Linked DNA regions of Homo sapiens. The protein of the gene in region 1 purifies or fractionates together with the protein of each later gene. This does not show direct contact. Each region holds a gene or a part of one and is shown in the gene's direction. Other genes may lie near its edges. The genes, in order: PEX1, IMMP2L, PEX14 and TRIM56.

Evidence for each region.
Region 2: the proteins of PEX1 (region 1) and IMMP2L purify together in Homo sapiens (co-immunoprecipitation; one large-scale study listed by IntAct). This does not show direct contact.
Region 3: the proteins of PEX1 (region 1) and PEX14 purify together in Homo sapiens (pull-down; one large-scale study listed by IntAct). This does not show direct contact.
Region 4: the proteins of PEX1 (region 1) and TRIM56 purify together in Homo sapiens (affinity purification with mass spectrometry, with the first as the bait; one study listed by BioGRID). This does not show direct contact.

Annotation. Positions count from the first base shown.
Region 1 is NC_000007.14:92,510,817-92,518,709, reverse strand, and holds part of PEX1 (peroxisomal ATPase PEX1), read left to right. Parts: intron 1-454; coding exon 455-569; intron 570-667; coding exon 668-1,434; intron 1,435-4,742; coding exon 4,743-4,862; intron 4,863-7,006; coding exon 7,007-7,130; intron 7,131-7,662; coding exon 7,663-7,766; intron 7,767-7,893. UniProt on the Homo sapiens protein: Component of the PEX1-PEX6 AAA ATPase complex, a protein dislocase complex that mediates the ATP-dependent extraction of the PEX5 receptor from peroxisomal membranes, an essential step for PEX5 recycling.
Region 2 is NC_000007.14:111,549,761-111,557,653, reverse strand, and holds part of IMMP2L (mitochondrial inner membrane protease subunit 2), read left to right. Parts: intron 1-7,893. UniProt on the Homo sapiens protein: Catalyzes the removal of transit peptides required for the targeting of proteins from the mitochondrial matrix, across the inner membrane, into the inter-membrane space. Known to process the nuclear encoded protein DIABLO.
Region 3 is NC_000001.11:10,479,980-10,487,872, forward strand, and holds part of PEX14 (peroxisomal membrane protein PEX14), read left to right. Parts: intron 1-4,513; exon of another isoform or gene 4,514-5,058; coding exon of another isoform or gene 5,059-5,136; intron 5,137-7,893. UniProt on the Homo sapiens protein: Component of the PEX13-PEX14 docking complex, a translocon channel that specifically mediates the import of peroxisomal cargo proteins bound to PEX5 receptor.
Region 4 is NC_000007.14:101,085,835-101,093,727, forward strand, and holds part of TRIM56 (E3 ubiquitin-protein ligase TRIM56), read left to right. Parts: intron 1-1,171; 5' UTR 1,172-1,334; intron 1,335-1,477; 5' UTR 1,478-1,478; coding exon 1,479-3,746; 3' UTR 3,747-7,893.

The DNA of each region.
Region 1 (7,893 bases):
TAGTCCCAGTCACTTGGGAGGCTGAGGCAGGAGAATCGCTTGAGCCCGTAAAGTCAAGGCTGCAGTGAGTCAGGATCTTGCCATTGTACTCCAGTCTGGAAAACAGAGTGAGACCTTGTCTCAAATAAAAAAAGAATGAATTGATAGAGATCTAATGTACAACCTGACAACTATAGGTAATAAAATTGTATTGGGGATTCATGTTAAATGAGTAGATTTTAACTACTCTTACCACAAAAACACAAAAGTGGGTAACTGTGAGATGATGTATATGTTAATTTACTTCACTATAGTAACCATTATACTATCTATATGTAGCTCATAACACCATGTCGTGTATATTAAATATGCACATTAAAATTTGTTTTTTAAAAAAAGAATTGAGATTTTTTTTAACTAGATATGGAGTGGACAAAATGTAAAGTGAATTGATCTTTTCGTCTGTTGGTTCTAGGAGCTGCATGCTGTTTCCCTTGAACAACATCTTCTAGATCAAATTCGAATAGTTTTTCCAAAAGCCATTTTTCCTGTTTGGGTTGATCAACAAACGTACATATTTATCCAAATTGGTAGGTGCTATTGTAATATTTGCTGTCATATTCTACACTATAGCATTGAGTCCAAAGTAGAAATGAATGTGCACTAATGAGCTTTATTTTCTACACAGTTGCACTAATACCAGCTGCCTCTTATGGAAGGCTGGAAACTGACACCAAACTCCTTATTCAGCCAAAGACACGCCGAGCCAAAGAGAATACATTTTCAAAAGCTGATGCTGAATATAAAAAACTTCATAGTTATGGAAGAGACCAGAAAGGAATGATGAAAGAACTTCAAACCAAGCAACTTCAGTCAAATACTGTGGGAATCACTGAATCTAATGAAAACGAGTCAGAGATTCCAGTTGACTCATCATCAGTAGCAAGTTTATGGACTATGATAGGAAGCATTTTTTCCTTTCAATCTGAGAAGAAACAAGAGACATCTTGGGGTTTAACTGAAATCAATGCATTCAAAAATATGCAGTCAAAGGTTGTTCCTCTAGACAATATTTTCAGAGTATGCAAATCTCAACCTCCTAGTATATATAACGCGTCAGCAACCTCTGTTTTTCATAAACACTGTGCCATTCATGTATTTCCATGGGACCAGGAATATTTTGATGTAGAGCCCAGCTTTACTGTGACATATGGAAAGCTAGTTAAGCTACTTTCTCCAAAGCAACAGCAAAGTAAAACAAAACAAAATGTGTTATCACCTGAAAAAGAGAAGCAGATGTCAGAGCCACTAGATCAAAAAAAAATTAGGTCAGATCATAATGAAGAAGATGAGAAGGCCTGTGTGCTACAAGTAGTCTGGAATGGACTTGAAGAATTGAACAATGCCATCAAATATACCAAAAATGTAGAAGTTCTCCATCTTGGGAAAGTCTGGGTTAGTATAAATTTTATAACTTGGGAGAAATTTTATGTGGCTTAAACATCCCCAAATTATGAATTAGAATAGTATTTCATATATAAATTGAAAATCAATTAAAAAGAAACACAGTGCCTAAAGGCACTTGGGGGACACATTTACGCTTTGCAGTAAAGTCCTTGTTTGGATAAAGATTGTATGTTTTCTGGCCAAGTAAGCTTGAATAGGTACAAGCTTAGATAGGTTCAGGCCAGAGAGGTCAAAATTACTTGCCTGAGATTGCATAGCTAGTGTTACAACTAGGATTCAAACCCAGGCAGATTGACTTGGGGGTTCATCAGGATGGAGTGCCCTACAAAGCCTCCCATCTTTAATGCTTGCAGATTTGTTCCCCAGTTACCGAAAGCAACTTGTTAATATTAGGGAAAAGGGCCAGTGTAGGGAGAGATCCATGGCATGAGGTAACCTTCCTGCTGCATGTGGTGGCACCTGGATTGGAATGCATCCAGGAGCTGCTTACCCTGCCGGTGTCTGCTCTTTAATTTGTGTATAACGGAGAGGAAGTAGACAGGGCAACTAGTGCTCCAGCCCCTCATCCTGGCCACAAATATTAATGCTACCTTTATATGACATAAGTCACTAGTCCATTTATTGGAACCTAAATTTGAACCACTGTAAAGTAAGACTTCATAGTGATAAAGAGAGGAACTTGTTAGGAAAGAGAATAAAATAGAAAGAGAAGGTTGTCTCCTTTTGTAGATTTTTTTTTTTTCTCCAACAGTTTTACCTGTGACCTTTATACAAATAACTGACAAAGCATTAATCTCTTTGGCCTACATCATTTTCTTTTCTATTTTTTTTTTCCACAAGATGGAGTTTCACTCTTCTTGCCCAAGCTGGAGTGCAGTGGCATGATCTGGCTCACTGCAACCTCCGCCTCCCACGTTCAAGTGGTTCTCCTGCCTCAGCCTCCTGAGTAGCTGGGACTACAGGCATGCACCACCACGCCTGGCTAATTTTTTGTATTTTTAGTAGAAACTGGGTTTCACCATGTTAGCCAGCCTGGTCTGGAACTCCTGACCTCAGGTGATCTGCCTGCCTCGGCCTCCCAAAGTGCTGGGATTACAGGCATGAGCCACTGCTCCTGGCCGGCCTACATCATTTTCTAAAGCTCCAGACCATTCTTTTCTTTTCTTTTCTTTTCTTTTCTTTTCTTTTCTTTTCTTTTCTTTTCTTTTTTCTCTTCTCTTCTCTTCTCTTCTCTTCTCTTCTCTTCTCTTCTCTTTTCTTTTCTTTTTTTGAGTTAGAAGCTTGCTTTGTTGCCCAGGCTGGAGTGCAGTGGCACCACCTCCACTCACTACAACCTCCACCTCCCAGGTTCAAATGATTCTCCTGCCTCAGCCTTCAGAGTAGCTGGGACTACAAGTGTGCGCCACCACTCCTGGCTAATTTTTGTATTTTTAGTAGGGACGAGGTTTCACCATGTTGGCCAGGCTAGTCTTGAACTCCTGGTCTCAAGTGATCCGCCTGCCTCAGTCTCCCAAGGTGCTGGGATTACAGGCGTGAGCCACTGTGCCTGGCCTCAGATCATTATTTTCTGTTAGCTTTAAACTGTCCGTTCAGGAGATCCCACTGCATCCTCAAATTCAAAATATCTAACACTGAGCTTATGATTTAGCTGGTTCTGTCATTAGATGGGAATATCCTTTTATTTCCTTGAAATTATATGGTGAGAACAGGGAGAAGTGCTGATGGTAAAGTCCTGTGATTAAGATAGCAATAAGGACTCCGCCCTTCCCACTCCACTGAAGGTTGAAGAGCCATGGACAATGAGAAGTCACAGTAGGTGAAATCAGGTACTAAAATGGACTTGGCTTGAGAGATCAAAATTGATCACTTGGTGATACAACTAACAAATTCATGTTAACTTGAACCTTTATTACCCTGTGAAGCATGGTGATTAAAAAAAAACAACAAACAAACAGGAAACTTGATTGTTAAATTCTCTTTAAGTCAGAATATGTACCTTAGAGTTTTTATTTATGCTTTTGTCTACCATTAATATGTCTGCACCTGCTCTTTAGAAGTTAATAGAGAGTAAAGTCGTCTTTATGTCTTTCAGTGCTTACTTATATTTGGGAAGTTGAGAAAAATTTTTAACATCATTATTGATATATATATATATATATATATATATATATATATATATATATATATATATATATAGATAATTTTTTTTTTTTTCTTGAGACGGAGTCTCACTCTGTCGCCCAGGCCGGAGTGTGGTGGCGATCTCCACTCAATGCAAGCTCTGCCTCCCAGGTTCAAGCGATTCTCTTGCCTCAGCCTCCCGAGTAGCTAGGATACAGGCTCCCACCACCACGCCTGGCTAATTTTTGTAGTTTTAGTAGAGACGAGGTTTCACCATATTGGCCACGCTGGTCTCAAACTCCTGACCTTGTGATCCGCCCACCTCGGCCTCCCAAAGTGCTGGGATTACAGGCGTGAGCCACTGCGCCCGGCTGAGGTAAAATTTAAAGTGTACAATTCAGTCATTTTTAGTATATTTATACTAGTTGTACAGCCATCACCACAATCTAAGTTTAGAACATTTTCATTAGGGGGTGGGAGAAATTTTACTCTGCTTTTTAGATTAAGTTTCTGTCTGGATCTAATCATTTAATCAGACAATCAGGCAGATTGTCTGTGATTAGTTTTGGCCATTCCAGCTTCTTCATTGGTTGTTAACTTTCACAAATAAAGGCTGCTCAAAGATTAGAAATAACATTTAATTTGAATGTAAATGTGCCATAGTTTAAAAGATGGGTTTGGTGAATACAGTCAAATACATACATTTAAAGCTCTAATTCTGAAGATTATGTAAAGAAAAGGAAAGAAATGTAGGGAGAGGATTGAAATGTTCATGGTATAACAATATCTGAACATCCATCTGGTCACACCGTTGGTATTTGAATGTTTTGTCCTCCTCAAATTCATATGTCGAAATCCCAACTCCCAAGGTGATCGTATTAGGAGGTGTGGTCTTTGGGAAGTGATTAGGTCATGAAGGTGAAGCCTTCATGAATGGGATTCGTGCTCTTATAAAAGAGAACTGTGAGAAATAAGTTTCTGTCGTTTGTTAGCCACCCAGTTTAGGATATTTTGATATAGCAGCCTGCATGGACTGAGACAACTATGAGTTATTATGATAGCTTCTGTTATTTCACCTAAATTCATAGAAGCTAATATATCAATATTTATGCTATGAAATATTTCTTAACCAAGCTTTGAATATATTTATATTTTTGTTTATTTTTAAATTTCAGATTCCAGATGACCTGAGGAAGAGACTAAATATAGAAATGCATGCCGTAGTCAGGATAACTCCAGTGGAAGTTACCCCTAAAATTCCAAGATCTCTAAAGTTACAACCTAGAGAGAATTTAGTGAGTTCAAATATATATGTTACATCAAAATTCTTTTACACGTTTTGTAAGATTTCTAGTTGCTTTAGCTAAGTAATAAGAATGTTGTATTCCTTTTTGATACAAATCTTTTTTTATTGTGTTAAACTATATATAACATAAAATATGCCATGTTCGCCATTTTTAAGTGTATAATTCAAAGGCATTAATTACATTCATAATATTGTACAACCATCACCACTATCTATATCCAGAACTTTTCCATCACCCCAAAGAGAAACTTGGTACCCATTAAACAATAATTCCCCGTCCACTCCTTTCCCCAGTCCCTGGTAATCTCTAATGTATATTGTGTCTCTATGAATTTACTTATTCTAGATATTTCATATATAAGTAGAAGTATGCATTTGTCTTATGTATCTGACTTATTTCATTTAACATAATGTTTTCAAGGCTCATCTGTGTTGTATGTATCAGAATGTTATTCCTTTTCATGGCTGAATACTATTCCATTGACTGCATATACCACATTTGTTTATCCATTCATCTGTTGATGGACACTTGGGTTGTTTCCACATTTTTGGCTGCTGTGAATAATGCTACAGTGAACATTGGTGTACAAGTATCTGTTTGAGTTCCTCTTTTCAGCTCCTTTGGGATATACCTAGGAATTATGTTTAACTTTTTGAGAAGCTGAGAAATCTTTAATAAATGATAACACAAATACTTATATTTGCCAATGCAAATATGAATATTTTTGGCTTTTAAGAGATTGATCATTTTGCCACGTGGTTGTAATTAAAAAAAATTGTCCCATGTTGTTTCAGTATTAATATTGTAGCCTAAAAGAGTGCTAGACTGTTTTACTTTTTACTCAGTTAATTCTTTGGATACTGGTAGAGTCAGGAAATGAGATATTGAACTTAAAGATCTTTGCAGGTGGGGTCCAGTGGCTCACACCTGTAATCCTAGCACTTTGGGAAGCTGAGGTGGGAGGATTGCTTGAGGCCAAGAGTTTGAGAATAGCCTGGGCAACATAGCAAGACCCCATCTCTACAAAAAAATTAAAAAAAAAATTAAGCCAGGCGTGGTAGCTCACGCCTGTTATCCCAACACTTCGGGAGGCTGAGATGGGTGGATCACTTGAGGTCAGGAGTTGGAGACCAGCCTGGCCAACATGGTGAAACCCCATCTCTACTAAAAATACCAAAATTATCGGGGCGTGGTGCTAATCCTGTAATCTCAGCTACTCAGGAGGCTGAGGCAGGAGAACCACTTGAACTGAGGAGGTGGAAGTTGCAGTGAGCCTAGATCTCACCACTGCACTCCAGCCTGGGTAACAGAGCGAGACTCTATTTCAAAAAAAGTAAAAATAAAAATTAGACACATGTGGTGGCACATGCCTGTAGTCCTAGCTACTCAGGAGGCTGACTGAAGTGGGAGGATCTCTTGAGCCCAGGAGTTCCACACTGCAGTGAGCTATGATTGTGCCACTGCACTCCAGCCTAGGCAATATCTCAAAAAAAATTTTTTTAAATAGATTATTAGGCCAGACGTGGTGGCTCATGCCAGTAATCCCAGCACTTTGGAAGGCCAAGGCAGGCGGATCACCTGAGGCCAGGAGTTTGAGACCAGCCTGGCCAACATGGTGAAACCCCATGTCTACCAAAAATACAAAAATTAGCTGCAATGTCTATAATCCCAGCTACTTGGGAGCCTGAGGCAAGCGAATCGCTTGAACCCGGGAGGCAGAGGTTGCAGTGAGTGGAGACTGCGCCACTGCACTCCAGCCTGGGCGATACAGCGAGATTCTGTCTCAAAGAAAAAGGAATTTGTTTTCCTGTCTTTATCGTAGAGGGAGGAAAGGGAGAATGGGGTTGGAATGGTTATTGAGTGAGCCACATTATGGTAGATGTATCACTGGGCATAGAGAAAAGGAGCATTTAAAACTTTTCCGCCTAACAGATGTTTCTTCAGGCTACACTGCACTCATTGTGCTAACTGTAATGTCAAATCCCAGACCTGTGCCTATAGAACATGAACATCCTTCATTGGATTTGTTTGGTCAGGCTTACACTTTATTAGGAAGATCAGATGTTAAAATAAGGGTGTTAAAGTTAAGTTCAGATATGAGGATAATTCATTACTATTCCTTTTTCTGGCAGCCTAAAGACATAAGTGAAGAAGACATAAAAACTGTATTTTATTCATGGCTACAGCAGTCTACTACCACCATGCTTCCTTTGGTAATATCAGAGGAAGAATTTATTAAGCTGGAAACTAAAGATGGTGAGTACATTTGTTATTTTGACTTTTTTTTCTATTTAAATAGTTGTACATTTTTAATTGTTCTTGCAACCTGTCATACCTGTGAACAGTATGTGAATAGTGAAATATAATTATGATAATTAAACAGTAGTTTTTATGTATTGAAAAATATCTTTGGCCGGGTGCAGTGGCTCATGCCTGTAATCCCAGCACTTTGGGAGGCCGAGGCAGGCGGATCACTTGAGGCCAGGAGTTCGAGAGCAGCCTGCCAACATGGCGCAACCCTATCTATACAAAAAAATACAAAAATTAGCCTGACATAGTGGTGTATGCCTGTAGTCCCAGCTACTTGGGAGGCTGAGGCAGAAGGATCACTTGAGCCCAGGAGGTCTGTGTTCCTGCCACTGCACTCCAGCCTGGGCAGCAGAGTGAGACCCTGTTGGGGGGAAAAAAAAAAAAGTCTTTAACTTAAATAAATTTGACATTTAAAATCTTAAATTATTTCATCTCTGTTTCAGTACTAACTCTGCATTTATTACTTTCTTTTTAATAGGACTGAAGGAATTTTCTCTGAGTATAGTTCATTCTTGGGAAAAAGAAAAAGATAAAAATATTTTTCTGTTGAGTCCCAATTTGCTGCAGAAGACTACAATACAAGTAATAGCATGTTATTGAATATTTAATAAAATACTATTTGTTACATATGATTGATAATAAAGTATGAAGTTCCTTGTAACACCTTGCATTGTGAAGTGTATTAAAAACCTGCTAAGAGTAAGGAATA
Region 2 (7,893 bases), about 19 Mb from region 1:
AGGTACAAGTACAAATGAAATCTAGCAAGAGCTCTTGATCTCTGCCTGCAATACCAGGTAAGGGTTTTAGTAGTGGTTGTGTTTGAGCTGAGACTTGAAAACTGAGTAGGAGTGGGCATGTTGACAAGCAATAGAAAGCATTTCTAGGTAAAGCTAACAGCATGAGTAGTTGTGTGGCATTACGAGAACATAGTGTATACTGGGAACTATATGTAGGTCAGTTATATTAGAGTGTGAAGGACAAGGTCAGGAGTGAAAGGAGATGAAACTGGTTAGCCAGTTCAGGGTACACTTCCTAGATGAAACTGGATAGCCAGTTCAGGGTACACTTCTTATACCATGTGTAGTAGTGAGCCACTGAAGAATTGTGAGTGTCATGGAAGATCACTGAAAGCAGTGTGCTGGGTAGATTGAGGGTAGAGTGGGGTTGGGTGTGGGGTCATGGCAAGACTGGAAGCTTTCAAGGACAGTACATCAGTAGGGATAAGAGAGGTTGAAAGCTTAGATAAAGGTGGAAGTAGTGGGAATAGAGAAGTGAGAATGTTTAGGAAAAGTAAGATGAGGGAGAATTTGCTGGTCTTTGTGACTGTTTGAATGTAAAAGATATGGGAGAGGGAGAATGTTAGAATGCTTCCTAGGTTTCTGGGTTGTGAGTGGGAAAAGAGAAGAGGAAGAAGGTATGAGGGAGAAGAGAATGAGTTCAACTTTGGACCTGTGTTTAACATGCTCGCAGGGCATATCATTGGCAAGTGTGAGATGTCTAGAAGGCAGTTGGATATAGGATCCTGGAACATCACAAGAGATTGCAAAGGCTGGAGAAACAGATTTGTGTGTTCTTACCATATGGAGAGTAACTGAAGTATCCATAGATACGGATAAAAGTACATAGAGGAATTGTATAGAAAGAGAAGAGAAAAGGGCTAAAAATTAGTCTTAGAGAATGTAAAAATTTAAAGGAGAAACCATAAAAGAGAAAGATGTAAAGATGCTGAAGGAGAGTGGCCATTAAGTATGATGATGATTGTAAAGTTACAATCATCAATGACTGTTAGAAGTCACTGGTTTCATTGTAGTGGTGGAGGTAAAGCTATCGTGCTGTGGGTAAAGGACTGAATAGGAGATGAGGCTGAAGGGGGCTGGACATGAGAATAGAGAGTAGATATGCTTGGGTCCCTCTTAGGAGATAATTGTTCTTCAGTCAGGGTATTTACTTAATACATTTTATTGTGTATATTTAAGGAAAATAACATGTTATGGAATACATGTAAATAGTAAAATGGTTACTGTAGTGAGACATAGTAACATCCATCATCTTACATAGTTATCCATTTTTGTGTGTATGACAAGAGTAGCTAAAATCTACTCATTTAGCAAAAGTCAGGAATACAATACAGTATTATATAGTACTGATGCTGTACATGAGTTCCCAAACTCTTTCATTATACATGGCTGCTACTTTGTGTCCTTTGACCTACATCTCAATTTCCTTCCCCCTCCCCTGGGATCACTGTTTTATTCTCCATCTCTGTATGCACACATATTAGAATCCCCTAGAGAGCTTTTAAAAATTCCGACTGATATCTTTACAAGGTTGCGGTTTCATTTTCTTTGGGTATGTATATATATATATATATACATGCACACAGAAGAGGGATGGCTAATTGGTACAAAATAGAAGTAATGGTAGTTCTATTTTTAATTTCTTTAGGAACCTCCCTACTTTTTCCATAATGGTTGTACCAATAGTATACAAGGGTTCTCTTTTCTCCCACCCTCGCCAACACTTATCTCTTGTTTTATTTGGTAGTAGCCATCTTGATGGGTGTGAATATATGGAAACAACCTAACTGTCCAACAAAAGACAACAGAAAATCAAACTGCAGTACATATATAGAATGGAATATTATTCAGCCTTAAAAAAGAAATAGATTCTGCTTTTTGCCATAAGATAGGTAAACCTAGGGGACATTATGCTAAGTGAAGTAAGCCAAATGCAGAAAGAAAAATATTGTATTATCTCACATGTGGAATCTTAAAAAAAAGTCAAATACATAGTGAAATCATATCACTGCTTCAGATTTTATTTTTTGAGAGAGAAACAACATGTCTGTATGCTGTGAGTTAGAAACACCATAGAAAGGGAGATGTTGAAAATACAGTTGCCTGATTCCTTGCTTGTCATATTTTTTTTTTTGTGAATGAAGATTAGGTTGTCGCTTTGTTTGCCTACTCCTTCCCGGCTTGCAAAATTCATATCTGACCCCAACTGTCAGATATGAATTTTAAATGTCCTTTCTACTCTATTCTTTCCTGCCCCACAGTTCACTGCTGTCTTGCTCTCACTACGTCTGGCCCTTTTGCATACATTATTCTCTAACCTAATCCAGTTGTGCGTAAAAACTCCATTTTCCTTTATTAAAAGTTGAAAAATTTCACAGGAGTGTCTGCTAGGAGAATGGAGGAAATAATGATAACAAACATAAAAATCATTCAGCATAGCCAACATGTATTAATATCTGCTATGGTAAAGGCCCTGGATACAAAGATATATATGGCAGGAAGGATGAGTAACATAGGGATCTGATCTTAATGCATTTATGCCTAGTGCTCCATTATTGGAGCGCTAAGCTAGTGGGAGTTATTTATATCCTACTTCTCAAGGTCATCGCCAAGGCCTGATTTTTCACAAAAAAAATTTGCAACCTCCAGCATAAATGGGTTAAGGACCCCTCAGGGCAGTGAGAAAAATGGATATATAAATAAAGCAGCACCAGTACTTTGGGAGGCTGAGGTGGGTGGATCACCAGAGGTCAGGAGTTCGAGACTAGCCTGGCCAATATGGCAAAACCCCGTCTCTACTAAAAATACAAAAATTAGTCAGGCATGCTGGCATGTACCTGTAATCCCAGAGGCTGAGGCAGGAGAATCACTTGAACCCAGGAGGTGGAGGTTGCAGTGAGCCGAGAATGTGGTACTGCACTCCAGCCTGGGTGACAGAGCAAGACTCCATCTCAAATAATAATAATAATAATAATAAAATAAAAATAAAGCAATGCTTTGAGGGACAATATGTGCTATGATAGAGTTCAAGGTAAGATAGATGCAAAAAATGGACTTCATTATTTTTGTGATCCTGAAGGTCTCACAAAAGGTGATACCTGAGCTATAGCTTGAGATATGGCATGGTGAGGTTCGGGGAGTAAGATTAGGGGAATAAAATATTCCTTAATGGCCCCACGATAGCAGCAGAAGGGGCTTGGGTTTCTCATCTTCCCTTTCTTCTTGTTCTGCGTGATTTTATTGCAAGATATTTTTGTGTTTGAGGGAGTTCTTAGGGGGTTAATATGTTTCAGTTTACATATAGACGTATCAGCATTTTCTCCCTTGTGATATAAACTTTCTGTGAATTTACCAACACTGGTTTATTATATATTAGACAGCTAACACAAACCAGTGCAATTATATCAAGTATCTGGGGGATGAGGTCCAGGCAGTGATATTTTCAAAGCATCTTAGGTGTCCTCATGGCAGTCAGGGTGGAGAACCACTGGGCTAAAACATGGCTTAGAAGAAAAGGCTGGGATTTGGAGCTAAAAAATTGTAGATTAGATTCTTGAATTCCTTTTAATAGTTACGTATCCTTAGTTAAGTTACTGAGACTTCTCTAAGGCCATCATTGAAAAATAGGATGGTAGTATACCCGTCCTGCCTACCTGTTTTGCAAAGTTATATGGCTCAAAAGAGGAGATTTGTGTGAAGGAACATTATATGCAGATGTGATTATAACAATAAAATGTTCTCTTGACCTTCTCCAGAAGTGGACAGGCTTAAGAGCTGGCTACCTTGTCCTGTAAGATAGGAACTACTTTATGGATTTTGATTTAATATTTTACCATCACGAGCATTTTGATGATATATTTTACTACATTTGTGTAATGCTACAAGGTTGAAGACCTAAAGCCAAAATGCAGAACCTTAAAGAAATAGCAGTTGAGCATTTCCTGTCTGATATATTCTAATTGTTTAAAATTACACAGATGCTTATTGTAATTAAGATTTAAGTGTGTAGTCTCAGTGTCAGTAATATTTTAGTATTAAAATTCTCTAAATGTGTTAAGTGTTTATTTTCATGATATGCACATTAAAAATAGCCATTTTCCAGAAAATAGTAACAACTCCACAGAGCACAATGGAGCACCACAAATGGACTTATTTTGGAGATTCCCATTATATTCGTTAAGAATGCAGGGACATATACTGTGTCTCTGTACTGTAGGAAGCTTGACATACTAGTATCAGTCATATAATCGTGTAGGAATGATCATCCTTACAGTATTATACCTTATTTTAGTTGAGAAGAAAGTGGTATTGTTTAATGACAAATTGAACCTAAAGCCTAAAGACTGGGTTCCAGATCTGTTTTCTCTACTCATTCCTATATGATAATTGGTAAATTAACCTCTCTGAGCCTCATATGTAAAATTGGGTTCTCTGTTGTTTTGTAACATGAAAACCTTAGTGGCTGAAAACAACAATGATTGTTTGTTATCTCATGGTTGCTGTGGGTCAGCAATTTGAGGGTCCTTGCTTGGTTCTCTGGAGGTTGCTGTCAGATATCAGCAGGAGTGGAAGTTTTATAGGAGCATCACTGGAGCTAAAAGATTCACTTCCAAGGTGGCTTACTCACTTGGCTGGCCAGTTGGTGTTGGCAGGTTGGTTCCTTTCCACAATGGGCTTGCCGTGGGACTATTCTCATGAGATGGCAGATGACTTTCCCGAGATTCAAGCTGCCAAAGTAGAAACTGCAGTGCCCTTTATGACTTACCTGTGGAAGTCATACACCATCATTTCAGATGTATTCAATTGGTTCTACAGACCAGCCCTGATTCAGTATGGGAGTGGATTACACAAGGACATGAGGCAAGGATCATTGTGGACTGTCTTGTGAGGGTAGGCTCTCTGAGAGGATAACAGTCTCTACCTGACATAGGATTGCTTTGAGTTTCATTGTAAGCATTTATGTGAGAGTCCTTTGTAAACCATTAAAGCAGCATATAAATGTGTTATAGAAGTGATGGTGGCTCACACCTGTAATCCCAGCACTTTGGGAGGCCGAGGCAGGTGGATCACTTGAGGTCAGGAGTTTGAGAACAGCCTGGCCAACATAGTGAAACTCTGTCTCTACTAAAAATACAAAAATTAGCCGGGTGTGATGATACATGCCTGTGATGCCAGGTCCTCAGGAGGCTGAGGCAGGAGGATCTCTTGAACCCTGGAGGTGGAAGTTGCAGTGGGCAGAGATTGTGCCCGTGCACTCCAGGCTGGGTGACAGAGTGAGACTCTGTCTCAAAACAAAACAAAACAAAACAAAAATGATGCTATTCCTTTTGACCAGTAAAACTGAATGGAAGTTGAATTATTTTGCTTTGTGCCATGTTAGCATTATGACACACCTTGCTCCAAATCCTTTCCTGCTTGCTTTACCTTATATCTTACTTTATATTCAAGAATTCTCCCCCTTTAATAATCAGCTAGAACAAAATAGCCTTTTTCAAGTTTCTCACATCTCTGGTGTAGAAGTAGTACATTGAATGGGAGAAAATTATAAACGAGCAGTGGCTATAGCATGAACTTGTTGGTCATCTGAGTAATAGCCTCAGGTTTCATTCTAGAGCATCTCCTTGAGGAAACCTCTGAATGCCTTCTTTGTATTTCTCTTTTAGTACTTGCTCTACCTTGCCTGGATTATAGTCTTACCATATTTTTTACTGGAAAATTCTTAAGGTAGTAGGGGCTATATTTCCTCCTATTCAGTGTCTTTTATCACCTTTAACCTAATGCTTTGTACTTCACTGGTGCTTAATCAGTGTTTACTGAGCTGGACTGCTGGCAGAACTCGAGCCTTTGTGCTTCCCTGAAACTTCAGATGAAGAAGGTTGTATTTTGCTGAGGTGGTAGTGATGGTGGTGGTGGATCCTGCCAGAACCATCTTTGAGCCTGTCTTATAGGTCCCTGATTTGCCACTGGAGCCCTTAGCCTCTCATAAATGACTCAGATATTTGGACTCTTTGTTAGTTGCTTAGCCTGGCTTCCTCACCGATGACCAAAGCAAGCAAGTGACCACACACACACACACACACACACACACACACACACACCTCTAACAGTCATACCTAACATACCTAACATACTATTTGTTACTAAACATATTGTATGTTTTTGGTAATACATAGTACGTTAGGTATAACTTTCAGAATCTCATTGAACTCTTGCCCAGTTTGGTAATACATAGTATGTTCTTGACTTCTTAGATTAAGAATACCCAGAATATAAAAGTGTACAACTTTCTTTCAGGCAATAAATCATAAAAATTTAATATTTGTACTTTTTTCCAAGTTATTCTGAGACATAGGTCTTTGTCACACACACTTTTATATATCTTTCCTTTGAAAAATGTAGCATTTACAGTCAACTTTTGAAAAATCATCTTGCTTGTCGCTGGGGGACACATTGCAAACAGATTATCAAGTTCTAGTTACGGAATTGTATACAGCAAAGACTTTTTTTTAAAGAAGGGAAATGTTTGTAATGTCATCATGTTTTGTATTTTAGGATAATTTCATTTCATATGATTTTCCCATTATGTAAACCAATAAACAAATTTGTATCAACTCAGGATTCTTTTCTCCTTGTTGCTGCAGATTTTCTCCTGCAGATTTATCTGCTGACTTCCCTCTTTAGCAGTTCTTTGCTTCCTTAGCCCCACTACCTGTCTTCTCCATCTCATTTGTACCTGACTCCTTCCCTGTCTTTGGACTCAGTATACTGATGACCATTAGAGGATAAGCAGGCTACAGTGGGCAGAGCAGATGTTATGAGGAGCAATGTGTGTGTAAATAAGAGCTGTGCAGAAGGTTAGCATTGACAGCCAAGGATGCTTTCTACTAAATAGTTAACAGAGGACCTGTGAAGTAATAATTGATAGGAGAAGATTAAGATTGCCGCAGATATTTTGCCTTATTTAAAATAGACTTTTTTTTAGGGTCTTTTGGTTCACAGTAAAATTGAATGGAAGGTACAGAGATATCCCATTTACTCCCTGCCCTCACACATGCATAGCCTCTCCTGCATGATCAACATCCCCCACCAGAATGGTACGTTTGCTACAATTGATGAAACTACATGGACACATCATTATCCCCCAAAGTTCATTGTTTACATTAGGGTTCATTCTTGGTGTAGTGCATTTTGTGGGTTTGGACAAATGTGTAATGCCATGTATGTATGCTTATAGTATACAGAGTATTTTCACTGCCTAAAAATCTTGGGTTGTGCTTATTCATCCCTCCCTTCTCCTAACCCCTGGTAACTTCTGATCTTTTCACTGTCTCCAATGTTTTTGCCTTTTCCATAATGTCATAGAGTTAGAATCATACAGTATGTAGCCTTTTTGGCCTTTATTTTTAGTTTTATTGGTATTGCAGATTATTTACTAAGGATCTTGGTATTTTCCCAGGAGCTTATTTGTTTAATAGTTGCTTGAATAAGAGTTTTTTTTAGTGTCAGATTTAAATACTGAATAATTATTATTTAGTTTTGTTAAATATTAATAACTATTTAGCACTGTTATTATGTGAGGGCAGTTTGAATCAGTTTATAAATGAATTAGCTTGTGCTTTTTATGAGTCTCACTATGTTTTTTTTTTTTTTTTTGACACGGAGTCTCGCTCTGTCATCCAGGCTGGAGTGCTATGACGTGATCTCGGCTCACTGCAACTTCTGCCTCCCAAGTTCAAGTGATTTTCGTGCCTCAGCCTCCCAAGTAGCTGGGATTACAGGCATGTGTTACCATGTCTGGCTAATCTTTGTATTTTTAGTAGAGATGGAGGTCTC
Region 3 (7,893 bases), on another chromosome or scaffold:
GCCTGGGCAACAGAGTGCAACCCTATCACTTAAAAAATAAATAAATAAAATAAAAAATAATTACCCTTTTAGTGTTGACTGAAATCACAGATGTGAAGAGCACCTGCTGCATAGTAAGTGCTCAGAGTTAGTTTTCTTCTCCCAGTCTTTACATGTAGTTTTGAGAGTCTGTTGAACTCTTGAATAACAGCAGGTCAGACAAGGTATTTGCCCTCTCAATGTTTTTTTTTTTTGTTTTGTTTTGTTTTTGAGATGGAGTCTCCCTCTGTTGCCCAGGCTGGAGTACAGTGGCTCAATCTCGGCTCACTGCAACCTCAGCCTCCCAGGTTCAAGCGGTTCTCCTGCTTCACCTGCCTCAGCCTCCTGAGTAGCTGAGACTACAGGTGTGTGCCACTACGCCTGGCTAACTTTTTTTTTTTTTTTTTTTTTTTTGAGACGGAGTCTTGCTCTGTCTCCCGATCTGGAGTACAGTGGCACAATCTCGGCTCACTGCAACCTCTGCCTCCTGGGTTCAAGCGATTCTCCTGTCTCAGCCTCCTGAGTAGCTGGGACTACAGGTGCCCGCCACCATGCCCAGCTAATTTTTTTGTATTTTTAGTAGAGATGGGGTTTTGCCATGTTGGCCAGGCTAGTCTTGAATGCTTGACCTCAGGTGATCCACCTGCCTCGGCCTCCCACAGTGTTGGGATTACAGGTGTGAGCCTGGCACCTGGCCTCAACTTTTTATTTTGAAAAATTTCTCACGTATAGAAAAGTTGAAAGGATAATACTGAGAACTTCTGTAAAATTCCCATAAAAACTTAACCAAGATGCACTGTTCACATTTTGCTGAATTTGCTTTATGTCAGTCTCTCTCTCTCTTTCTCTCTCTCTCTCTCTCTATATATATATTTTTTTTTTTGGAAGGATTTGTGGTAAGTTACAGACATCAAGGATATTTCATCCTAGAATATTTCACCTTATCTCTCATAAGAGTAAGGTTATTCCCCTGTATAACCACAATATCATTATCACACAAGAAATTTAAGTGTTGATAAATAGTATTATTTAAAACAGAATCTGCACTCAAATTTTCACACTTAAAAAAAATCAGAATCTAGTGAAGAAACAGAGATTGCATTGATTTGTCTCTTTAGTCTTTTTTTTTTTTCCTTTCCTTCCTTTTTTTTTTTGTTTGAGACAGAGTCTTGCTCTGTTGCCCAGGCTGGAGTGCAGTGGTGCAATCTTGGCTCACTACAACCTCCGCTTCCTGGGTTCAAGCAATTCTCCTGTCTCAGCTTCCCAAGTAGCTGGAATTACAGGTGCCCGCCACCATGCCTGGCTAATTTTTTTGTATTTTTAATAGAGACAGGGTTTTGCCATGTTGGCCGGGATGGTCTCGAACCCCTGACCTCAAGTGATCCACCCACCTCGGCCTCCCACAGTGCTGGGAGCCACCGCGTCCAGCCTTAAACTTTGTTTGTTTGTTTGTTTGTTTTTTGAGACAGGGTCTTACTCTGTCACCCAGTCTGGAGTGGAGAGGTGTTATCACAGCTCACTGTAGCCTTGACCTCCTGGGTTCAAGTGATCCTCCAGCCTCAGCCTCCCGAGTAGCTGGGACTATAGTCATGCACTATGATGCCCAGCTAATTATTTTTTGTAGAGGTCGGGTCTCGCTGTGTCGCCCAGGCTGGTCTTGAACTCCTGACCTCAAGTGAGCCTCCCACCTCAGTCTCCCAGGCTTCTTTTACTTAACACATATTTTTGAGATTCATTCATGATGAGAACAGTGACAGTTTATTATCACTGCTTTATACAGTTATTGTATGAATGTGTTTGGCCATTTATTATTAACCATTCTACTCTTTTTTTTTTTTTTTTTTGAGACAATGCCTGGCTCTGTTGCCCAGGCTGGAGTGCAGTGGTACGATTTCGGCTCACTGCAAACTGCTTCCCAGGCTCAAGCCATCCTCCTACCTCAGCTCCCCTGGTAGCTGGGACCACAGGCGCATGCCACCACACCTGGCTAATTATTTTTGTATTTTTTGTAGAGACGGGGTTTTGCCATGTTGCCCAGGCTGGTCTTGAACTCCTGAGCTCAACCAGTCTGCCCGTCTGGGCCTCCCAAAGTGCTGAGATTACCAGTGTGAGTGACCACATCTGGCCACCATTCTACTTTTTGTTTTTTGAGACTGAGTCTTGCTCTATCACCCAGGCTGGAGTGCAGTGGCATGATCTTGGCTCACTGCAACCTCTGCCTCCCAGGTTCAAGTGATTCTTCTGCCTCAGCCTCCTGAGTAACTGGGATTATAGGCACTGGCCACCATGCCTGGCTAATTTTTGTGTTTTTAGTAGAGACGGGGGATTCACCATGTTGGCCGGGCTGGTCTCGAACTCCTGACCTCAAGTGATCCACCTACCTTGGCCTCCCAAAGTGGTGGGATTATAGGCGTGAGCCCCTGCGGGTGGCCCATCTTACTTTTTTTTTTTTTTTTGAAATGGAGTCTCGCTCTGTCACCGGCTGGAGTGCAGTGGCGCAATCTCAGCTCACTGCAACCTCCGTCTCCCGGGTTCAGGTGATTCTTCTGCCTCAGCCTCCCAAGTAGCTGGGACTACAGGCATGTGCCACCATGCCCGGCTAATTTTTGTATTTTTAGTAGAGATGGGGTTTCTTCATGTTGGCCAGGATGGTCTCGATGTCTTGACCTCATGATCCACCTGCCTTGGCCTCCCAAAGTGCTGGGATTACAAGCATGAGCCACCGTGCCTGGCCTGAGCCATTCTACTTTTAATGGACATTAGATTGTTTCACCTTTAGGGTCATTACAAATAGTACTGCTGTGAAAATACCTGTACGTGTCTTTTTGTGAACATAATATGTGCATTTCTGGTGAGTTCATCTACGTTTTTTATTTTTTATGGTATTGACATGTTTGGAGAGTCTGGACTACTTGTTTTGTGAAATGTTCCACCATCTGGATTTGTCTGATTTGTTCCCTTACATTTAGATCCGGGTTAAACATTCTTTTGTGAGAATATTATGTAAGTGACGTTGTGTCTATCTGTGTATCATATCTGGAGGAACGAGTCCCATTGTCGAAGATGAAGTTTGATTGTTTGGTTAAGGTGGTGTCTATCACATTTCTCCATCATAAAGTTAACTTGCTAAATTAGTTGCTTTCTTTGCAACTTTGCTAGTATTGTTTTAAATTTTTGAGACAGGGTCTCACTCTGTCACCCTGGCTGGAGTGCAGTGGCACAGTCATGGCTCGCTGCAGTCGTGACCTCCTGGGCTCAAGTGATCCTCCTGCCTTGGCCTCCCAAAGTGCTAGGATTACAGGTGTGAACATGGCCAAGTTTTTCTTTTTTTCTTTCTTGAGATGGAGTCTTGCTCTGTCTCCAGGGTGGAGTGCAGTGGTATGATCTCGGCTTACTGCAATCTCCACTTCCCAGGTTCAAGCGATTCTCCCCCCTCAGCCTCCGGAGTAGCTGGGACTGCAGGTGTGCACCACCATGCCTGGCTAACTTTTTATATTTCAGTAGAGACGGGGTTTCACTATGTTGGCCAGGATGGTCTCAATCTCCTGACCTCATGATCCACCCGCCTCGGCCCCCCAAAGTGCTGGGATTATAGGCGTGAGCCACTGCGCCTGGCCTGGCCAAGTTTTTTTTTAGTATTTTAGTTTAATATTGTATTGACTGACAAAGTCTTATGGCCTAAACTTTACTGTGGAATTCTAATAGGTGTGTTGTGATCAGTTTGAGTTTTGACAAATTGTATATACGTGTGTAACCACTACCACCCTAAACCTGTGTAACCACCACTGCCACAAGCAAGATCAACAGTTTCAGTATCCCTAAACGTTCCCTTACGCCCCTTCCCATTGAATCCTTGCCTGTGGTCCTAGGAAATCTGAACTGTTTTCTATTACTATAGAGTATATTTGTCCCTCCTAGAATTTCATATGAATGAATTATGTATTCTTTTATGTCTTTTTTGGCTCAGAATAATGTTTGTGAAATTTATTTGTGTTATGGTATGTATCAGTAATTATCAGTAATGAATTACCTTTTTTTTTTTTTTTTTGAGATGGTATTTCGCTCTTGTTGCCCAGGTTGAAGTGAAGTGGCTCAGTCTTGGCTCACTGCAACCCCTGCCTCCTGGGTTCAAGAGATTCCCCTGCCCCAGCCTTCCAGTAGCTGGGATTACAGGCGCCCACCACCATGGCCGGCTAATTGGCTAATTTTTTTGAATTTTTAGTAGAGACAAGGTTTCACCATGTTGGCCAGAGTGGTCTTGAACCCCTGACCTCAAATGATTTGCCCACCTCGGCCTCCCAAAGTGCTGGGATTACATGTGTGAGTCACTGCGTCCAGCCAATTTTTTTTTGTTTAGTAGAGATGGGGTTTCACTGTGTTGGTCAGGCTGGTCTCCAACTCCTGACCTCATGTGATCCAACTGCCTTGGCCTCCCAATGTGTTGGGATTACAGGCGTGAGCCACTGCGCCTGACCATGAATTACTTTTTACCGCTGAGTAGTATTCCATCGTATGGATGGCTATATCTCAATTTGTTGATCTGTTCACCAGTTGATGGACATTTGTAGTAGTTTTTGATTCCTGCGTAACAGTATTACCACAAATTTAGCCGCTTGGCACAGCACACATTGATTATCTCATGGTTTCTGTGGGTCAGGAGTCAGGAAACCACTGGGCTGAGTCTCACCAGGCTACTATTGAGAAATCTGTCAGGACTGTGGTCGCTGACTAGGGAGGGGTCTGCTTCCTAGCTTGTGTGGTTGTTGGTGGCATTCAGTTCCTTATGGACCATGAGACTGGAGACTTTAGTGTGTTACTGTCAGCCAGCGGCCGCCCTCAGTTTCTTGCCAAATGAGTCTTCCCACTTGCCTCCTCAAAGCCAGCAGAAGAGAGAGTCTCTTAGTAAAGTGGACATTACCACGACGTATCTCACCCACATTAATGCAGTCACGTACATGCTGTCACCTTTGCCATATTGTGTTGGCCAGAAGCAAGTAACAGATCCTGGCCACATTTGAGTAGAAGGAACAGCACAGGGGCATGGATACCAGGAGGTGGGGATCATGGGGTCACCTTAGAGTCTGTTCCCCACAGGATTCCTTCTCATTCTGGGCTACTGTGAGTATTTGTGTATGTGTAAGTGTTTGCGAGGACATATTCTTCATTTTTCTGGGGAAATAACCTGTAAGTGGAATGGTAGGCTTATGTAGTAAGTATGTTTAGCTTTGTAAGAAACTGTCTAAATTGTCTAAATGTTTTTAGCCATTCTGGTGAGTGTGTAGTGTTATTTATTTGTGTGTGGTTTTTTTTTTTTTTTTTTTTTTTTAAGAGACAGGGTCTTTTTTGTCTTTGTCGCCCAAGCTGGAGTGCAGTGGTGCAATCATACATAGCTCACTGTAATCTCCAAGTCCTGGGCTCAAGTGATCCTCCAGCCTCAGCCTCCTGAGTAGCTAAGACTCAGGTGCATGCCACCATGCCCAGCTAATTATTTTTTGAATTTTTGTAGCGAGGGGGTCTTGCTGTGTTGCGCAGGCTGGTCTTGAACTTCTGGACTTGAGTAGCCCTCCTACCTCTGCCTCCCAAAGTGCTGGAAGTACAGGCATGAACCACAGGGCCGAGCCTAAATATTTTTTTGTTTTCAGGATACTGTTATATTTATGGATTTTATTTTTTAATTATTCAATGCTACTATGTAGAAATAAAATTGAATTTTATATATTGGTCTTGTATCTGCAACCTTGTTAACTTATAATTCTAGTAGTTTTTTTTTTTTTTTGAGACAGACTCATGCTGTGTCACCCAGGCTGGAGTGCAGTGGCGTGATCTTGGCGCACTGCAACCCCCGCCTCCTGGGTTCAAGCGATTCTCCTGTCTCAGACTCCCTAGTAGCTGAGATTGCAGACGCCCGCCACCACGCCTGGCTAATTTTTTTGTATTTTTAGTAGAGACGGGGTTTCACCATGTTGGCCAGGCTGGTCTTGAACTCCTGACCTCAGGTGATCTGCCTGCCCCAGCCTCCCAAAGTGCTGGGATTACAGGTGTGAGCCACCGTGCCCGGCCTCTAGTAGCTTTTTTGTACATTCCTTGTGATTTCTCTATAGATGATGGTATCATCTGCAAATAAAGACAGCTTTACTTCTTACCTTCCCATTAATATGCTTTTAATTTTTCTTGCTTTATTGCACTGTCTAGGACTTTGAGTGCAATGTTAAAAGTAACAGTGGAAGTGGATGTCCTTGCTTTGTTCCCCATTTTGGGGGAAATATTTTTAGTCTTCTACAGTTAAGTGTTAGCTATAGGTATTTTGTAATAGGTGCCTTTGTCAAGTTGAAGAAATTCAACCTTCATTTTTAGTTTGCTGAGTTTTTTTTTTTTTTTTTTTTAATCATATGTGTTTTGAGGCCAGGCACAGTGGCTCACGCCTGTAATCCCAGCACTTTGGGAGGCTGAAGCAGGAGGACTGCTTGAGGCCAGGAGTTCGAGACCAGCCTGGGCAACATAGCGAGGCTCTGTCTCTATACAAATTTTTAAAAAATGAGTCTGACATGGTGGCACATACCTGGAGTTCTAGCTACTCGGGAGGCTGAGGCAGGAGGATGACTTGAGCCCTGGATTTCCAGCTTACAATGAGCTATGTCACACCACTGCACTACAGGCACTACAGGCTGGCTGAAAGATGGAGACTCTGTCTCTTTTTTTTTTTTTTTTGAGACAGACTCTTGCTCTGTCACCCAGGCTGGAGTGCAGTGGCGCGATCTCGGCTCACTGCAACCTCCGCCTCCTGGGTTCAAGCGATTCTCTGCCTCAGCCTCCTGAGTAGCTGGGATTACAAGCATCCACCGCCATGCTTGGCTAATTTTTTTGTGTTTTTAGTAGAGATGGGGTTTCACCATCTTGGCCAGGCTGGTCTTGAACTCCTGACCCTGTGATCTGCCCACCTTGGCCTCCCAAAGTGCTGGGATTACAGGCGTGAGCCATTGCACCCAGCCTGAGGCTCTGTCTCTTAAAAAAAAAAAATTATTTTTGAATGTTGTCAGGTGCTCTTTTTTGTCTCTATTGAGTTGATCCTTTTGTTTGCTTCCTTTCTTTTATTAATATGGTGATTTATGTTGATTGATTTTTGAAATGTTAAACCAATTTTTTATTCATTGGATAAATTCTACTCGATGTGTTATGCTTTTTATATATAGCTGGACTCAATAGTATTTCGTTAAGGATTTTAACATTTATGTTTGTGAGGGATATTATTCTATAGTTTTTTTGTATGTGGATGTGTAAAATCTTTGGTTTTTATGTCAAGATAGTACTGGCCTCATGGAGTGAGTTTGGCAGTTTTTTTTTTTTTGTATTCTTTGAAACAGTTTATATAAGATTGCCATTATTTCTTCCTTAAATGTTTGATAGTATTTACCAGTAAAGCCATCTGGACGTAGAGTTTTCTTTTTAAGTTTTAATTATATACTTTATTACTTTTTCTTTCTTTCTTTTTTTTTTTTTTTTTTTTTTGAGACGGAGTCTTGCCCTATCGCCAGGCTGGAGTGCAGTGGCGTGATCTCAGCTCACTGCAACCTCTACCTCCCAGGTTCAAGCGATTCTCCTGCCTCAGCCTCCCAAGTATCTGGGACTACAGGCGTGCGCCACCACACCAAGCTAATTTTTGTATTTTTAGTAGAGATGGGGTTTCACCATGTTGGCCAGGATGGTCTCCGTCTCTTGACCTTGTGATCTGCCCACCTCGGCCTCCCAAAGTGCTGGGATTATAGGCATGAGCCACTGTGCCCGGCCTACTTTTTTTGTTTTTGAGGTTGAGTCTCACTCTGTTGCCTCGGCTGGAGTGCAGTGGCTCGATCTCGGCTTACTGCAACTTCTGCCTCC
Region 4 (7,893 bases), 8.6 Mb from region 1:
TGCCCAACAAGTAGGTCTCAGCCACTGTGCCAGGAGCTCGGGACTCCCTCCCTCCAGAGGTTTCTGGAATGCATTCAGCAGGAAAAGCTAAAAGAACAGGACTCCAGGAGATAAGCCAAGGCCAAGTCTATCAGAGGGTGAGCCAGCAGCGGGAAGGGGACCAGCCCTTCCCCTAGCGTTTTTTCTGCCCGCTCCAGAATCCGCTTTAGAAACTGTTAAATGCAGAAAGTGGGGCCTCCACCACCCGCGATGCTGCCCCAGGTCTAGCAGAAGACAGGTGTAAGGCCAGGCGGGTGCGGTGGCTCATGCCTGTAATCCTAATGCTTTGGGAAGGCCGAGACGGGAGGATAGCCTGAGGCCAGGAGTTGGAGACCAGCCTGGGCAACATAGCAAGACCCCATCTCTACAAAAAGTGATAATTTTTAAAAAATGGGCTGGCTGGGCCCCTGGGCATGGTGGCTCACGCCTATAATCCCAGCACTTTGGGAGACCGAGGAGGGCGGATCACCTGAGGTCAGGAGTTCAAGACCAGCCTGGCCAATAGGGCCAAACTCCATTTCTACTAAACATACAAAAATTAGCCGGGTGTGATGGTGCGCACCTGTAATCACAGCTACTCGGGAGGCTGAGGCAGGAGAATCACTTGAACCTGGCAGGTGGAGGTGGCAGTGAGCCAAGATCGCACCACTGCACTCCAGCCTGGGCAACAGAGTGAGACTCTGTCTCAAAAAAAAAAAAAAAAAAAAAAAAGGCTGGGCATGGTGGCACATGCCTGTACTCCCAACTACTCAAAAGACTTGAGTCTAGGAGTTTGAGGCTGCAGTGAACTACGATCACGCCACTGCACTCCAGCCTGGGTGACAGAGGGTGACCCTATTGCTAAAAACTAAAATAAAATAAAAAGAAGGCAGGTGTATGGGGCTTGGAGGATTAAAGCCCCCTAAGCTACTGCAAGATCCTACCCCAACTGGCAGGACCTAGGCATCTCTGCCCACTGGGATCCCCGTCTGTGTCCTTACTGCCTGCTCCTCGCACCCTGGCACCCTATACAGCAGGACCCCAGTACCTGTGCACACAGGAGGGCTTCCACCATGTTTGCCACAAGGCCTGTGGACTGGGGACACTGAGGATTCGATTATTAGCTAAGGCCAGGGACTCCTGGTCTTGTCAGTTCTCACAGGTCTGACCCAACAAGTAGCACTGACATTTTTACGTTTGCTGGATGTACACACGGAAGTGGAGGAGGAGGAGGAGAAGGAGGAGGGCAGCTCCTTAGCTCAAGAGCAAGTGGCCCAAGGCCTCAGAAGACTAGAAGGAAGTTCCTGGCCATTCAGGTGAGACCTCAGGTTCCTTCCCGGCCATTTGGGTCAGCCCCTAGCCCTGGGGATCCGTGGGGCTTGAGGACGGGCGGTAGAAGCTAGAGGGTGAGCTGGTGAAGGTGCCTTCTCAACTCTGATCCTGACGCCTCTGCCTGCAGCATGGTTTCCCACGGGTCCTCGCCCTCCCTCCTGGAGGCCCTGAGCAGCGACTTCCTGGCCTGTAAAATCTGCCTGGAGCAGCTGCGGGCACCCAAGACACTGCCCTGCCTGCATACCTACTGCCAAGACTGCCTGGCACAGCTGGCGGATGGCGGCCGCGTCCGCTGCCCCGAGTGCCGCGAGACAGTGCCTGTGCCGCCCGAGGGTGTGGCCTCCTTCAAGACCAACTTCTTCGTCAATGGGCTGCTGGACCTGGTGAAGGCCCGGGCCTGTGGAGACCTGCGTGCCGGGAAGCCAGCCTGTGCCCTGTGTCCCCTGGTGGGTGGCACCAGCACCGGGGGGCCGGCCACGGCCCGGTGCCTGGACTGTGCCGATGACTTGTGCCAGGCCTGTGCCGACGGGCACCGCTGCACCCGCCAGACCCACACCCACCGCGTGGTGGACCTGGTGGGCTACAGGGCCGGGTGGTATGATGAGGAGGCCCGGGAGCGCCAAGCGGCCCAGTGTCCCCAGCACCCCGGGGAGGCACTGCGCTTCCTGTGCCAGCCCTGCTCACAGTTGCTGTGCAGAGAGTGCCGCCTAGACCCCCACCTGGACCACCCCTGCCTGCCTCTGGCTGAAGCTGTGCGTGCCCGGAGGCCGGGCCTGGAGGGACTGCTGGCCGGTGTGGACAATAACCTGGTGGAGCTGGAGGCAGCGCGGAGGGTGGAGAAGGAGGCGCTAGCCCGGCTGCGGGAGCAGGCGGCCCGGGTGGGGACTCAGGTGGAGGAGGCGGCTGAGGGCGTCCTCCGGGCCCTGCTGGCCCAGAAGCAGGAGGTGCTGGGGCAGCTACGAGCCCACGTGGAGGCTGCCGAAGAAGCTGCTCGGGAGAGGCTGGCGGAGCTTGAGGGCCGGGAGCAGGTGGCCAGGGCCGCAGCCGCCTTCGCCCGCCGGGTACTCAGCCTGGGGCGAGAGGCCGAGATCCTCTCCCTGGAAGGGGCGATCGCACAGCGGCTCAGGCAGCTGCAGGGCTGCCCCTGGGCACCAGGCCCGGCCCCCTGCCTGCTCCCACAGCTGGAGCTCCATCCTGGGCTCCTGGACAAGAACTGCCACCTTCTTCGGCTGTCCTTTGAGGAGCAGCAGCCCCAGAAGGATGGTGGGAAAGACGGAGCTGGTACCCAGGGAGGTGAGGAGAGCCAGAGCCGGAGGGAGGATGAGCCGAAGACTGAGAGACAGGGTGGAGTCCAGCCCCAGGCTGGAGATGGAGCCCAGACCCCAAAAGAGGAAAAAGCCCAGACAACCCGAGAAGAGGGAGCCCAGACCTTGGAGGAGGACAGGGCCCAGACACCCCACGAGGATGGAGGACCCCAGCCCCACAGGGGTGGCAGACCCAACAAGAAGAAAAAGTTCAAAGGCAGGCTCAAGTCAATTTCCCGGGAGCCCAGCCCAGCCCTGGGGCCGAATCTGGACGGCTCTGGCCTCCTCCCCAGACCCATCTTTTACTGCAGTTTCCCCACGCGGATGCCTGGAGACAAGCGGTCCCCCCGGATCACCGGGCTCTGTCCCTTCGGTCCCCGGGAGATCCTGGTGGCGGATGAGCAGAACCGGGCACTGAAACGCTTCTCCCTCAACGGCGACTACAAGGGCACCGTGCCGGTCCCTGAGGGCTGCTCCCCTTGCAGCGTGGCCGCCCTGCAGAGCGCGGTGGCCTTCTCCGCTAGCGCACGGCTCTATCTCATCAACCCCAACGGCGAAGTGCAGTGGCGCAGGGCCCTGAGCCTCTCCCAGGCCAGCCACGCGGTGGCGGCACTGCCTAGCGGGGACCGCGTGGCTGTCAGCGTGGCGGGCCACGTGGAGGTGTACAATATGGAAGGCAGCCTGGCCACCCGGTTCATTCCTGGAGGCAAGGCCAGCCGGGGCCTGCGGGCGCTGGTGTTTCTGACCACCAGCCCCCAGGGGCATTTCGTGGGGTCGGACTGGCAGCAGAATAGTGTGGTAATCTGTGATGGGCTGGGCCAGGTGGTTGGGGAGTACAAGGGGCCAGGCCTGCATGGCTGCCAGCCGGGCTCCGTGTCTGTGGATAAGAAGGGCTACATCTTTCTGACCCTTCGAGAAGTCAACAAGGTGGTGATCCTGGACCCGAAGGGGTCCCTCCTTGGAGACTTCCTGACAGCCTACCACGGCCTGGAAAAGCCCCGGGTTACCACCATGGTGGATGGCAGGTACCTGGTCGTGTCCCTCAGTAACGGGACCATCCACATCTTTCGGGTCCGTTCTCCGGACAGTTAAAGGGGCTAGGACTAGGGTGAGAGGGAGTGGGGAGGGAGAGGGCAGGAAGGAGGCAGAGCTGTCCGTGGGAGGTGGAGGCCGAGGACATTTTCCTGAAGGGCAGGGGTTGGCAACTTTTCAACATGGAGTGCCAAACTGCTAACCCGTCTTCTAGTGTGTGAGAATAGGGACCAAGGTGGTGGCGTGACCTTAACTCTCAGAAGCAGAGGAGGCAGGTGGGTGGAGGGGGATGCTGGGAGTTCACCTGCCTCTTGCTTTTTGTGGGTGGCTGCTGCCACCACCGCCGCTGCTATATAGTTTAGGTTTCTGAGGTTTGTGAGCCTGTCCTGCTTTGCATTCTTCAAAACCATTCCTGATAGAGTAGCCGAGGGAGAGTCTTGGGGCCAAGAAGGGCCCAGGGTGGGTCAGGCGTGTGCACTGTGGAACAGAGCTGAGACCCCGGCCCCCCTTGGACTGGCACAGGGTCCTACAGAGTCAGAGGAGGCCTGAGATTTCGAATGGGCAGTGAATGGCCTCTTCTGCCAGCCACAGGCAGGATGCTCCTTGATCACGGCATCCCCCGGCGGTAGTACAGGGTGAGCTTGCAGGAGGGTCTGCAAGTGCAGACAGCAGCTGGGGCCAAAGAGGTGTTAGGTTCAAAGGCTGCGAAGAGAATAGGCTACTGGAAAACCAAACCCAACAGAATTCACGTCCAAAAATCCACATTCTCCATCGCTTCTCAGCCTTTTGGCTAAGATTAAGTATTAAAAAAAAACCAGGCTCTGCCAGGCGCAGTGGCTCATGCCTATAATCCCGGCACTTTGGGAGTCTGTGGCAGGAGGATTGCTTGAGGCCAGGAGTTTGAGACCAGCCTGGGCAACATAGCGAGACCCCATCTCTACAAAAGATTAAAAATTAGCTGCGTGTAGTAGCATATGCCTTTCAACGTAGCTACTCAGGAGGCTGAGGTGGGAGGATCCCTTGAGCCGAGGAGTTTGAGTCTGCAGTGAGCTATGATCGCACCACTGCATTCCAGACCCCATCTCGAAAAAAAAAAAAAAAAAAAAAAACAGAAACAACAGAAAAAGCAGGTTATCCATCACTTCTCAGCTAAGATCAAGTGTTAAAATAAATAAATAAATAAATAAATAAATAAATAAATAAATACCAAGTTATGAGTGTCAGAGCAGGGGAGCCCTCCACGCAGCCACGGAGCCAGTCTGAGGGAAGAGGTACATAGGATAGAAAAATCTCTAGGCTCCAACGCTTCTGCTTCGGTGTCTTTCCATTTCCCAGGGTCTATGTGTTGCCTTCTCTTCATTTTCCAGCAAAATTCCTTTTGAGATATGTTGGCCTTCACTCGGCTGAACTAGGGGGTGAAGGAAGGTTGTCCTCTGTGGGCCACTATTGCTGGGGAAACAGCTAAACCCTGCAGGCCAAGTGGAACTTGGAGGTGCCAAGAAAACCTAGAAGGTGCAATGGGGCTGCGACGGATAGAGGTGTCAAACCAGAAGGGAGGAACCCGTCGGAGGTGGGCTGTGACCACCGGACCTTTTCATAAGTGGTGGCAGTGGTAGAATTGAGGGGGCAAGTAGGCTTGGAGAATGTTTTTAGCCAGGGGCTGTTGAGAGATGGCAGAAGGGGGTCTTAATGTGGGGACTGTGGACAGTGGGGCATTCGTGGGAACCAGAGGGATTTTGGACAAGTCCAGATGGAATGTGCAGGGCATAGGTAGAGGGAAAAGAAAATCCCTTTCTGGGAAAACCATTTCTTGTTTATTGAAACAATGCAGGACATCATCAAAGTCCGGGTGGACACATTCCATTATCTACAAATTACAAAGGTAGGCACAGCAAAGAATAATGAAGATTATAAGAAAACCAAGCGCCAGGCACGGTGACTCAAGCCTGTAATCCCAGCACTCTGGGAGGCTGGGGTGGGTGGATCACTCAAGGTCAGGAGTTCGAGACCAGCCTGGCCAACATGGAGAAACCCCATCTCTACTAAAAATACAAAAATTAGCTAGGCGTGGGAGCGGGCGTCTGTAATCCCAGCTACTTGGGAGGCTGAGGCAGGAGAATCATTTGAACCCAGGAGGTGGAAGTTGCAGTGAGCTCAGATCGCACCATTGCACTCCAGCCTGGGTAACAAGAATGAAACTCCATCTCAAAAAAAAAGAAAAAGAAAAGAAAGAAAACCAAGGTCCCTCTCCCTCTCCCTCTCCCCACGGTCTCCCTCTGCCTCTCTTTCCATGGTCACGGTCTCCCTCTGATGCCGAGCCGAAGCTGGACTGTACTGCTGCCATCTCGGCTCACTGCAACCTCCCTGCCTGATTCTCCTGCCTCAGCCTGCCGAGTGCCTGCGATTGCAGGCGCGCGCCGCCACGCCTGACTGGTTTTCGTATTTTTTTGGTGGAGACGGGGTTTCACTGTGTTGGCCGGGCTGGTCTCCAGCTCCTAACCGCGAGTGATCCGCCAGCCTCGGCCTCCGGAGGTGCCGGGATTGCAGACGGAGTCTCGTTCACTCGGTGCTCAATGTTGCCCAGGCTGGAGTGCAGTGTCGTGATCTCGGCTAGCTACAACCTCCACCTCCCAGCCGCCCGCCTTGGCCTCCCAAAGTGCCGAGATTACAGCCTCTGCCCGGCCGCCACCCCCTCTGGGAAGTGCGGAGTGTCTCTGCCTGGCCGCCCATTGTCTGGGATGTGAGGAGCCCCTCTGCCCGGCTGCCCAGTCTGGGAAGTGAGGAGCGCCTCTTCCTGGCCGCCATCCCATCTAGGAAGTGAGGAGTGTCTCTGCCCGGCTGCCCATCATCTGAGATGTGGGGAGCACCTCAGCCCCGCCGCCCCGTCTGGGATGTGAGGAGCGCCTCTGCCCGGCCGCGACCCAGTCTGGGAGGTGAGGAGCGTCTCTGCCCAGCCGCCCCGTCTGAGAAGTGAGGAGCCCCTCCGCCTGGCAGCCGCCCCGTCTGAGAAGTGAGGAGCCCCTCCGCCCGGCAGCCGCCCCGTCCGGGAGGGAGGTGGGGGGTCAGCCCCCTCCCGGCCAGCCGCGCCGTCCGGGAGGGAGGTGGGGGGTCAGCCCCCGCCCGGCCAGCCGCGCCTTCCGGGAGGGAGGTGGGGGATCAGTCCCCGCCCGGCCAGCCGCCCCGCCCGGGAGCGAGGTGGGGGGCGCCTCCGCCCGGCCGCTGTCCCGTCCGGGAGGTGGGGGGTCGCCTCTGCCCGGCCGCCCCGTCTGGGAGGTGAGGAGCCCCTCTGCCCGGCCACCACCCCGTCTGGGAGGTGTACCCAACAGCTCATTGAGAACGGGCCATGATGACGATGGCGGTTTTGTGGAATAGAAAAGGGGGAAAGGTGGGGAAAAGATAGAGAAATCAGATTGTTGCCGTGTCTGTGTAGAAAGAAGTAGACATGGGAGACTTCATTTTGTTCTGTACTAAGAAAAATTCTTCTGCCTTGGGATGCTGTTAATCTAAGACCTTACCCCCAACCCCGTGCTCTCTGAAATATGTGCTGTGTCCACTCAGGGTTAAATGGATTAAGGGCGGTGCAAGATGTGCTTTGTTAAACAGATGCTTGAAGGCAGCATGCTCCTTAAGAGTCATCACCACTCCCTAATCTCAAGTACCCAGGGACACAAACACTGCGGAAGGCCGCAGGGTCGTCTGCCTAGGAAAACCAGAGACCTTTGTTCACTTGTTTATCTGCTGACCTTCCCTCCACTATTGTCCTATGACCCTGCCAAATCCCCCTCTGCGAGAAACACCCAAGAATGATCAATAAAAAATTAAAAAAAAAAAAAAAAAAAGAAAACCAAGAAGATGGGAAAACCATGCAGAATTGATTTGACGAGGAAAGCCTTGGTCTCTAATACATGCAATGACTAGAACAGTATTTGGTCAAAGAACCACATAAGCTCTGTACCCTGGAGGAAATGTATGCAGGCAAGGACTAGTAAAATAAAAAATAATAATAATTAAAAAAAAAAAAAAGAAAGGCTGGACGCGGTGGCTCACACCTGTAATCCCAGCACTTTGGGAGGCTGAGGTGGGTGGATCACCTGAGGTCAGGAGTTTGAGACCAGCCTGGCCACTACGGTGAAACCCCATCTCTACTAAAAATACAAAAATTACCCGGGTGTGGTGGCGCATGCCTGTAATCCCAGCTACTGGGGAG